Linked DNA regions of Homo sapiens: region 2 is reported to be linked to region 1. The links are microRNA targets in miRTarBase. Many come from high-throughput screens and were not tested one by one. Region 1 holds a microRNA gene; the other region holds the end of a gene's coding sequence.

Region 1 (5,381 bases):
CAGAGATTGGCGGAGCAGCTAGAGATGGCAATGGTACCCTCACATACTTCTGAGGCTGCAATGTGGATTCACAGAAATGTAGACATCCCAGTGCAAACCATGAGCAGGAGAAAAGGTGGGCTGTAGTCAAACGGTGGTGGACCCTGACAAGTGAACTAACGGTTTAGCTATGGGAAAAGGTGTAGTATTCATATCCTTTGGTAGGACAGAATCCCAAGATACTGGAAAGATAAAGACTTTAGGTGATGACAAAGAGTGGTTTTCCTGTTCTGTGGGAACACCTGTGCCATGAAACCACCATAGACGTGGTAACTATAATTTGTGGTAAGATGCTTTTTTTTTCTCAGCCCTCAACTGTTCGAGTGAACACATTCTGCAAAGTTCTCCAGCTTCCTGTGTGGGGGCTCTGCTAGGCCTGTGGGCTGCACTATTTCTAGGACATGGTGAATCCAGACAGGTTCAGCCCTATGTTTTCTTTTTTTTTTTTTTGGAGTTGGAGTCTCAATCTATTACCCAGGCTGGAGTGCAGTGGCACAATCTTGGCTCACTGCAACCTCCGCCTCCCAGGTTCAAGGGATTCTCCTGCCTCGGCCTCCCGAGTAGCTGGGACTATAGGCGCGTGCCACCACGCCCAGCTAATTTTGGTATTTTTAGTAGAGACAGGGTTTCACTGTGTTAGCCAGGATGGTCTCGATCTCCTGACCTCGTGATCCATCCACCTCGGCCTCCCAAAGTGCTGGGGTTACAGGCGTGAGCCACCACGCCCGGCCTTAGCCCTGTGTTTTCAAGAGGGATGGGGGCCAGGTCACAGAGAAAACGCAAGATGAGAAAACATAATTTCCATTAGGTTCCAGAGAAAGTATCAGTGTCCAAGAGGATATGGAAATGAGAACTTCTCAGCAGCTCAGAAATATCAGGTTGTTAGGCATCAGAGGATAAGAAGGAAGAGGTGTCTGCATAAAAACAGAAAGGCCTTTGATTCTTTATTTTTTATTATTATTATTATTTTTTAGAGAGACAAAGTCTTACTAAGTTGCCCAGGCTGGTCAGTCTTGAACTCCTGGACTCAAGTGATCCTCCTGACTTGGCCTCCCAAAGTGCTGGGATTACAGGCCTGAGCCACCATGCCCAGTCAGGTCTTTGATTCTTAAGAATAGTCACAGGGGCTGGGCGCGATGGCTCATGCCTGTAATCCCACCACTTTGGGAGGCCGAGATGGGTGGATCACGAGGTCAGGAGATCGAGACTATCCTGGCTAACACAGTGAAACCCCGTCTCTACTAAAAATACAAAAAAATTAGCCGGGCGTGGTGGCGGGCGCCTGTAGTCCCAGCTACTCGGGAGGCTGGGACAGGAGAATGGCGTGAACCCGGGAGGCGGAGCTTGCAGTGAGCCGAGATCGCGCCACTGCACTCCAGCCTGGGCGACAGAGCGAGACTCCCTCTCAAAAAAAAAAAGTCACAGGGATCTCAATAGTGCGCACACTGGGCAAGCCAGGAAAATCAGCCTGCAGAAGGCCCCAGCAGTAATCTGACTTTGCACTGGAGGCTCTGGCCTCCCTAATTATCTCTAAAATGGGCACAGCCTGCCCTAATACCGGAGCTGGAAACTACCTGAGAATAGGAAGGCCACGGAGTCACTCCTGTCTGGTGCAAAGGGGACAGTGTGAACTCTGTGCAGCATCAGTGATGACTCAACTCACCACATCCTTCCTGTCCAGCACCTCCAGGATGTTGCTCAGAAGCTGCGAGCTTGCCTCGTGGTCAGGCTTGTTGGAGTTGTCATCTAACTGGCCGCTGAGCTGGTCTGTCAGCAGTGGCAGCAGCACTTCTCTGCACTCTGAGAAGGAAAACACAGACAGCTCACACACAGCAGTGCCACCTCCTGAACTGCCTGTCTCCTTCCTGCAACTCTTCCTCGACCAGTACCAGTAGCTCTAAGCTCTGCAATCAGCCCTGCAGGGATGCAGCCCCTCCAGGCCACCCAGGAACACCTGGTTTTAGGCACGGAACTTTACCCTTGTTCAATGCGCAGATGAATGAATTAAAAAAAAAAAAAATGACCCTTCTCACAGGTGAAGGTGGGAACTTAGCAAAATGTTTAAATTATTTAACAATTTCTCTAGCTTTTCAAAACGCCAACCTAATGCACGAAATTGAGGGTCATATGAAACAAATAAAACCAAGCAAGTTATACATTTTTTTTTTCAAAAATTTTTTCACCTAATGGAGAAAATTTACTGAAAGAAGTTCCTATAAATAAAGTTCCTATAAATACTGAGCTTCCCTAGTACATGTCAATGACATTCTGCTCATGTCTGTGCAGGCGTGTGGATTTCAGAAAGTAAGGTATGACCTATTATGTCTTCTGAGATCTTTGCTATTGTAACACATTTTATAATGAGTTCAGGTACTCTGAATGCTACAGAAATGACTGTTAACCGTGATCACACTCTAAGTAGAACTATCCAGTGCATGCTTGCTCTTCTGCTCAAACACCTTATCTTTACTATCTCAATTACCTTTTCTGTATCCTTAAAAAGTGATCAAAGCATATTAAAATGTTTAGTAATAATTTGCTTTAGTAATAAATGTTTTCTACTTATGAGCATTCACTAACCTTTTGCAGGCATTACCTCTACCTCCAATTGTGTCTTAGGAACATTTGCAATTTCAAAGTGCAAATTCATAGGGTCAGAAAATATCAGAGCCCAAGGAGGCTACTGATACGATCTAGCTCAAGTCCTTCCTTCCACAGAACTGGAGGCTGAGACTTAGAGAAGGCCACTCATTTGTCCAGTTACATAACTAGCCAGGGGCAAAGCCAGGAAGGCTCTCCCACCAACAATCCACTCAACTTGTTTAACGTTGAGGAGTCCTGCTGGTCTTCAGATCTCCAGGCAATATACATACATAAAATGAGGTTACACTCTGGGAGCCCCTGACCAGGTAGTTAGCCCCAGAAGAAGTCTCCGTGGCTGCCTCACTCTAGCAAGTCTTGAGTTTATTGGGAAGGCCCAGGTGCTGGACCTCCTGTTTATATCAGCTTTGGGACAGAAACACTTGGTGGCTATTTGCTAGACTCTACTTACAAAATGAAAAGTATTTTATCAGTGTAAGAGTTTTTCCCCTCCATGCCCCACTCCTCTCCCAGCAGAATACTAGTAATCTGGCTTCTGCCAGCCTACCCCCTAAAGAAAACAGCTTGGCCAGGTGCAGTGGCTCATGCCTATAATCCCAGCACTCTGGGAGGCCAAGGTGGGTGGATCACCTGAGGTCAGGAGCTTGAGACAAGCTGGCCAACATGGTGAAACCCTGGCTTTACTAAGATTACAAAAAAAATTAGCTGGGCATGGTGGTGCACACCTGTAATCCCAGCTACTTGGGAGGCTGAGGCAGGAGAATTGCTTGAACCTGGGAGGTGGAGGTTGCAGTGAGCCAAGTTCATGCTGCTGCATTCCAGCCTGGGCGAAAGAGTGAGACTCCATCTCAAAACAAAACAAAACAAAAAAACGCTTGCTTTATCATGTTTGCCAGTTACCCTGGTGTAAAGACTTCCACCATGGTCAATTTCCAGCTACTAATGTGATATCACTGAACGTGGGGTTGAGAAGGGATGCATGTAACCAGCTCTCCTGTGGGATCCAACACATTGCTGTTTCCCTGTCCCCTGGTTTTTAAGGTCATGCAATAAGTATAGACTAAAGAAGAATAATTTCTTTTAAAAGGGTCATCTTTTCCTACTTGCTTGTTACTTCCTGAGGTTCCTGTTTTAAAGACAAAATTCTCTAATTAATGAACCACTTGCAGATTGTTCTAATTAAAGATTAAGGAACACATGATTTTGCTCTTTTAGGAACTGTTGGAAATACCGAGCTGACTTTAGATTCTCCTTAAAACCGCTCTCCCAGGAGGTCCTTACATACAACTGGCAACAATATTAATGTTGCCAACAAACAACTGGCAAGAATATTAATGACATTTTTAAAAAAGAAAAGTCAAGTGCTGACTGGGCACGGTAATTATGCCTGTAATCCCAGTACTTTGGGAGGCCAAGTTGGGCAGATCACTTGAGGTCAGGAGTTTGAGGCCAGCCTGGCCAACATTGTGAAACCCCCCCTCTCCCAAAAATACAAAAAAAAAAAAAAATTAGCTGGGTGTGGTGATGTACACCTGTAATCCCAGCTACTCAGGGGGCTGAGGCAGGAGAATCACTTGAACCTGGGAAGCAGAGGTTAGAGGGAGCAGAGACAGTGCCACAGAACTCCAGCCTAGGTGAGGGAGTGAGATTCCGTCTTAAAAAACAAACAAGCCGGACGCGGTGGCTCACGCCTGTAATCCCAACACTTTGGGAGGCCGAGGCGGGTGGATCACGAGGTCAGGAGATCAAGACCATCCTGGCTAACGTGGTGAAACCCCGTCTTTACTAAAAATAAAAATAAAAAAAAATTAGCTGGGCTTGGTGGCAGGTCCTTGTAGTCCCAGCTACTTGGGAGGCTGAGGCAGGAGAATTGCTTGAACCTGGGAGGCCGAGGTTGCAGTGAGCCGAGATTGCGCCACTGCACTCCAGCCTGGGTGACAGAATGAGACTCCGTCTCAAAAAAAAAAAAAAAAAAAAAAAAACAAGAAAAAACAAACAAACAACAAAACCCAAGTGTTAGCTGCAGAAATGGGGCTGTCATCTCAGCATGCAGCAGCTTGTTTTAGCTTTTTGAGATGGAGTCTTGTTCTGTCACCCAGGCTGGAGTGCAATGGTGCAATCTCAGCTCACTGCAACCTCATGCAGCAAGTTTTGAAGGAGACTTACCTGACTGTCGAAAAAGAGTGCTCTCTACTATCTTGGTCATGCAGTTAAGTTTCTGCCGAACCAGCTGGTTGTCAGGAATGCTTTGAATGAATTTGCAGAAGAGCACGCTGGGAGAGAAACCTCAGGGTTAGTAGTGTCTTCGTTCTGCCAAATTGAAGGCATCATTATAAACTTTTCTCCTCCACTCTGAGATTTGGGCATGGAGAGATTTACCTGGAAAACTACAAAATGACCTGAGAGTTTATGACATGGCAGCAAGGGAGATTTTATCCTCACTTACTGGAGGGCTCTGCCTTAGAGCTGAGTATTTAAATTGCCAAAGAACACCCACGTCCATCATCACTTTCCAGACCCGCCTTTATGAAAATGGCTTTCTTGGCAACTCCACTCTCATGTTGATTGCAGTCTGACTTTGCACTGCTGGGATACTTAGGGGTAGGGCTGGAAGCATGTCATTATACACTATCTTTTGTAATCGATTTTATGTCTGCATGTCTTGTTTTCCCAGAGAAAGTGCAAACCTCTCTCAGGGCAGGTTTTGGATGTTCTTTTGCATCTTCCACAGAACTGAGCAC
Region 2 (5,381 bases), not on the chromosome of region 1:
ATACATGTGTGTATATGTATACATATGTATATACATGTGTGTATATATGGATATGTATATATATTTGCATTTTTCAAAAAAATTGATTTAATAAGCCATGTGACTCAACCATTTTATTTCATTTTATTTTTTTTGAGGCAGAGGCTCACTGTGTCACCCAGGCTGGGGGCAATCTCGGCTCACTACAACCTCCACCTCCTGGGTTCAAGCAATTCTCCTGCCTCAGCCTCCTGAGTAGCTGGGACTACAGGCATGTGCCACCACACCTAGCTAACTTTTGTATTTTTAGTAGAGACGGGGTTTTACCATGTTGGCCAGGCTGGTCTTGAGCTCCTGACCTCAAGCAATCCACCTGCCTTGGCCTCCCAAAGTGCCAGGATTACAGGCGTGAGCCACTACATCCGGCCTGACTAAAGCATTTTAATTTGGTCTGTGAGCCTTTCTATTCTGAGACTTCTAGGGTAGCTTGCCTGGTCGCATATTGAAGACTATCATTGTATCAAGGGAACTTCTCACATTAACAGACCCCAAAGGATAAAGTGAGAAGGGATCATAATTCAAAGTTTGGAGTTTACCTAAAGAAATAGGACAATAATATGAAATAATTGGCTAAAATATTGGGGGCCCAGTATTGATCTGGGTGGTTATAGGGTCAATCAAGGGACACAGGGCTGATCTTAGGAATCCAGGATAGTTTCGGGAGCCCTAAGAACAAGGTGAAGAAGGACCATAATTAATTTTATTTTAGACATTTTAGCTAAAGCAGTAAGACAAATTAAGTAACTGGCATAAATAGATGTGGGGGTGGGAGTTAGGGCTGGCCAAGGGGGCACAACAGAGCTGATTTGGGGGCGGTGTCAGGGACACCTCTTGCAGTGGGCCCTCTCCCCCTCTGAGTATATATAAGTAACAATGGCAAGGAGATTGTATTAGTCTGTTCTCATACTGCTAAAATACCTGAGACTGGGTAATTTATAAAGAAAAAAGGTTAAGTTGGCTTACTGTTCTGCAGGCTGTACAGGAAGCATGGAAGCATCTGCTTCCAGGGAGGCCTGAGGGAGCTTTTACTCATGGCAGAAGGCAAAGAGGGAACAGGCATCTTACATGGCAGGAGCAGGAGGAAGAAAGGAAGAAGGTGCTACACACGTTTACACGACCAGATCTCACCAGAAGTCACTAACTATATGGTACCAAGGCGGGATGGTGCTAAACCATACATGAGAACTCCACCCCCAAGATCCAATCACCTCCCATCAGACCCCTCCTCCAACACGGGATTACAATTCAACATGAGATTTGGATGGGGACACAGATCCAAACCACATCAGGAATGGAACACAGAAGTGACATTCATTGAGCACTGTCTAGAACACAGGCTGATCCCATCCCATACACCTGTGGTCACTACAGGGTCTTCAGCGCAGCTCCTCTTTGTGCAGAAACCCCAGGGATCACCTCCCACCTCCACCCAACTCCCCATCACCACCAACGCAAGGTCATGCATCACTGAGACCCCAAGAACCTATAACCTCTGACACCACAGATCCCCATCACTCACCTCACAGAGTGCCTCCCATTCCAGCACAGTCTTCCCACCTTGACTGCCCGGCATTCTTCCCCTCTTCATTCATTAGCGTCATGCCATGCTTTGCCACTTTCCTGCACTGCTCTTCACCCAACCCCATTAACCACTGTCATTCACACTGTGCCTCATATCACTCCCAATTTCCTCCACTCTGCACCCACTCACTGCCAGTCTACTCCCTCCTTCTCTCCCCAACACTACTCATGTTTACTTACACTCAACTGTTTCTTCTCCAGTAACTCACAACACTGGATATTTCCCCCATTTCGCCCTACTCTTCCCTGTTCACCACCCTTCTGCCCCTCTTTACTCCATTCACTCCCCACTTAGCCCTTCATTGCCCTCCTCTCTCTTCCTCCAATCCCAATCCTTTTATTCACATGCTGATGTTCATCTCCATCCATTCCCCTGTCTGTGCTTCACTCACCTCCATTCACCCACATGTGGGCCATCAGCTTGCCATTTGTGTCCCAGGAAGCAGGAGTCCAAGATCTACCTGAAATGGTGAGATCTGACCCTCACCCCCACCCCACTATAGGATGGCCTTCAATGGACCTGAAACCCTAGCAAGATTCTCTATAAGTAGAAAGGAAAAATAGCTTTATTTCCAGTGCCCTTGGGCATCTTTCAAGGAGACTGCACCAGGAGCAAGCCAGTCTGCCCCACGTTTCCTCTCCCTGGAAAGGCACTGAATGTGATAGGTTTACCTTAAATAGTTCATAAAGTGAGCCCACGGCTTGTTTCCTTGCAGGATTACTCAGGGTAAAAAGAAGGCCCGAAAGGGCACAGGCAGGGTCTCAGGTCTAACTCACCCACCCATTTTGATAAATCCAAACATTGCCCATCCCTAGTTTTTCACAGCTTAAGTTGTCCAGTTCCAGCAAAGAGATGGCCCCAGTGAAAAGCCACAGAAGCATGAGGGCCACAAATACAGTAATTCACAAGCAGGACCTCTCGTTCTGAAGCAAATGTCCTGTTATGTGGGCTTTGACTATGTCCATTCAGACCATCACTCTCAATCTGTCTATCACCTTGGAAAATATGTATCGCCAGCACTAGAGCAACCTTAGAGAAGCAAGTTATTCAACCTCTCTATGGATTCGTGTTTTGCAGCACTTGTAAAAAGCGTTTGTATGAATGATGTAATAAAAATAATTTCGTTAAGATATGGAAAGTCCTCGGTGGGCTTTAGTACAGGATCTTTTCACAGATGTCACTATGCATGTTCCAGTCTCAATTATTTTAGTTACCTAATGTGGTCCCAGCTGACCGGAGAATCACTTCATTTGGCAACCTCAGGAAAATAATGCCTATGTGCCTCTGGAATTGATTGAATAACTGTTGTTCTATCTGCTTGGTTCTTCAATTTATTCACCAAAAATAAACTCTACATTGAGCATATCTATATTAAATGTTATAAAATCCTGTACCTAGACTGTGACTTTACTATAACAGTAAAACAAAATAGCTTTTTAAATGTTTTATTTTTGAAAAGGTAGTACATCCACATAGTACATAGTACACCCACATTTTCAAAAGCTATGAAAGGATACAGTTGTCTCCCTCTCAATTCCATCCCCCCAGCCACCACTGCCCCTTCCCCTCCCAAGGTAATCAGGGTTACCAGGTTCTCATGTCTCTTTCCAGAGATAACTTATGAATTCACAATTATGTACTTACCATTTTTCTCCTTTTTATATACAAATGGCAGTCACTGTCCTCAACCTTATTTTTCCTACCTAATAACATAAACTGAAGGTTATCCCACATCACTACATAAATGGTTTCCAAGTTCTCCTTATTTATTCATTGTTGTCTACCCAGGAGTAGGCTGTATGAATATACCACAATTTAGGGAACCAGAACCCTGATATGGTGTCATTTAAACAGCTTCCAATCTTTTGTTTTCACAAACGCTGCATTAATGAATACTGTATGTTCATCATTTTGTACATGTGTGAGTATGTACATTCCTAGAAGTGGAATTGCTGGCCCAAAAACCAAATGCATTTGTGGTTTTGATTACTTTTGAATAATTCCTCTTTGAATGAGAAGAGTTTTTCCTGGACTTGCTATTTGCTGGAGGTTCATGTGGGAAAAGAAACCAGGGCCACATTCTAAGCAGATCAGTTTTTTTTTTTTTTGACAACTGAGAATTTTTTCCCCCCACAGCTGTTCGTTCTTTCTGACTTTACTTCTCCCAAGTCAGTAAATAGGGGCAGCTGTAGGGCTCTTCACAAGGAAAAGTCCCTTCTCTTCCCCCAGCATGCCATAACTGTTGCTCCCATCAGTAGACTACTTTCTAAAAATATGGCTTGTCTGAGTGACTCCTTCTCGAGGCCCCAGCCTGTTTCTCCTCAGACCCCAAATGGTCTAGGAAACATCCTACCTCCTACCTGCCCACGCACTGTTACCACTGTTATATCTATGGTTCCGCGCCTCGGGGTATATCCCGAACCTCAGCTAAGAGTCCTTACCAGTGCTGTCTTGCACCTGCAGCCTTGAGCACTCTCACTCTGAAATCTCCTGCACCAGTGCTTCATTTCCTCTGCCTGTGGCAGCCCTCTCATTAGGGTTGCAGCTGTCTCCTAATTTTGTCAGATACAGAGATTACACTTCTGCTTTTTCTCCCGTAGCTTTTGGGTTATGACTGAGATGAAAAGAAGAAAGGCTGAATTTACTCCCATATTTAAACCACAAGTCAAAATATACTTTTAAAATGTGAGTAAAATTGACACAACTTTCTTTCAGTGTCCATAATAGATACTGCTGATTAGCTCTCTAATGTGCCATGAACTTTGACTTCCGAGTGTGGCCTCTTCCATGGGCTTTCTTTCCTGCATGGGTTCGCTGATGTACAATAAGGTTTGATTTTTGGGTAAAGGCTTTCCCACATTCTGTACATTTATAGGGTTTCTCTCCAGTATGAGTTCTTTGATGTACAGTGAATGTTGACTTTTCTCGGAAGGCTTTGCCACACTCAGTGCATGCATAGGGTTTCTCTCCCGTGTGCGTTCTCTGATGTATTATGAGCTGTGACTTCTGGCTAAAAGCTTTCCAACACACAGGACATTCATAAGGTTTCTCTCCTGTATGAATTCTCTGATGTATAATGAGCTTTGACTTTTCTCTGAAGGCTTTGCCACATTCATTACATTTATAGGGTTTTTCTTCTGTATGAGTTCTTTGATGTATAATGAGATATGATTTCTGTGAAAATGCTTTTTCACATTCATTGCACTCGTAAGGTTTCTCTCCTGTATGACCTCTCTGATGCAGCATGAGGTAGGACTTCTGAGAGAAGGCTTTCTCACATTCATTACATTCAAAGGGTTTCTCTCCTGAATGAGTTCTCTGATGTACACCAAGGTTTGACTTTTGCGTGAAGGTTTTTCCACACACATCACATTCATAGGGTTTCTCTCCTGTATGAGTTCTTTGATGCACAATGAGGGTTGACTTCTCATTGAAAGACTTCCCACATTCAGTACATTTATGAGGTTTCTCTCCCGTATGAGTTCTCTGGTGTATAATGAGAGTTGACTTATCACTGAAAGTTTTCTTACACTCATTACATTCATGGGGTTTCTTTCCTGTATGGGTACTATGATGTATAATTAGATCAAGCTTCTGTATGAAAGATTCTCCACATTTAGTGCATTCATAGGTTTTCTCTCCAGTGTGGGTTTTCTGATGGACAATGAGGTTGGACTTCTGAGTGAAGGCTTTTCCACATTCATTACATTCATAAGGTTTTTCTCCTGTGTGAGTCCTGTAATGTATGATGACAGTTGAC

What was found. The annotated mature microRNA hsa-miR-6876-3p reads AGCUGUCUGUGUUUUCCUUCUCAG and lies in region 1 at 1,840-1,863, opposite strand. An mRNA with a match to its seed (bases 2 to 7 or 8) in the 3' UTR can be bound and repressed. Matches are read on the target gene's strand: a 7mer-m8 pairs with bases 2 to 8, a 7mer-A1 pairs with bases 2 to 7 and ends in A, and an 8mer does both.
Region 2: the mRNA of ZNF182 is a reported target of hsa-miR-6876-3p. Seed matches in the 3' UTR shown: 7mer-m8 at 4,166-4,172 and 8mer at 4,066-4,073.

Annotation. Positions count from the first base shown.
Region 1 is chr8:25,341,933-25,347,313 of GRCh38, reverse strand. It overlaps MIR6876 (microRNA 6876), which reads right to left and starts at 1,912; the gene lies at 1,840-1,912. It overlaps DOCK5 (dedicator of cytokinesis 5), which reads right to left. Exons shown (of 52, transcript NM_024940.8): 25 at 4,807-4,913; 26 at 1,703-1,839. RefSeq lists enhancers at 1,627-1,921, 1,904-1,963.
Region 2 is chrX:47,971,801-47,977,181 of GRCh38, forward strand. ZNF182 (zinc finger protein 182) reads right to left here. Exons shown (of 6, transcript NM_001007088.2): 6 at 3,051-5,381. The coding sequence ends at 4,367. Among named protein-coding and RNA genes, the nearest start is that of ZNF182, 29 kb to the right of the region's middle.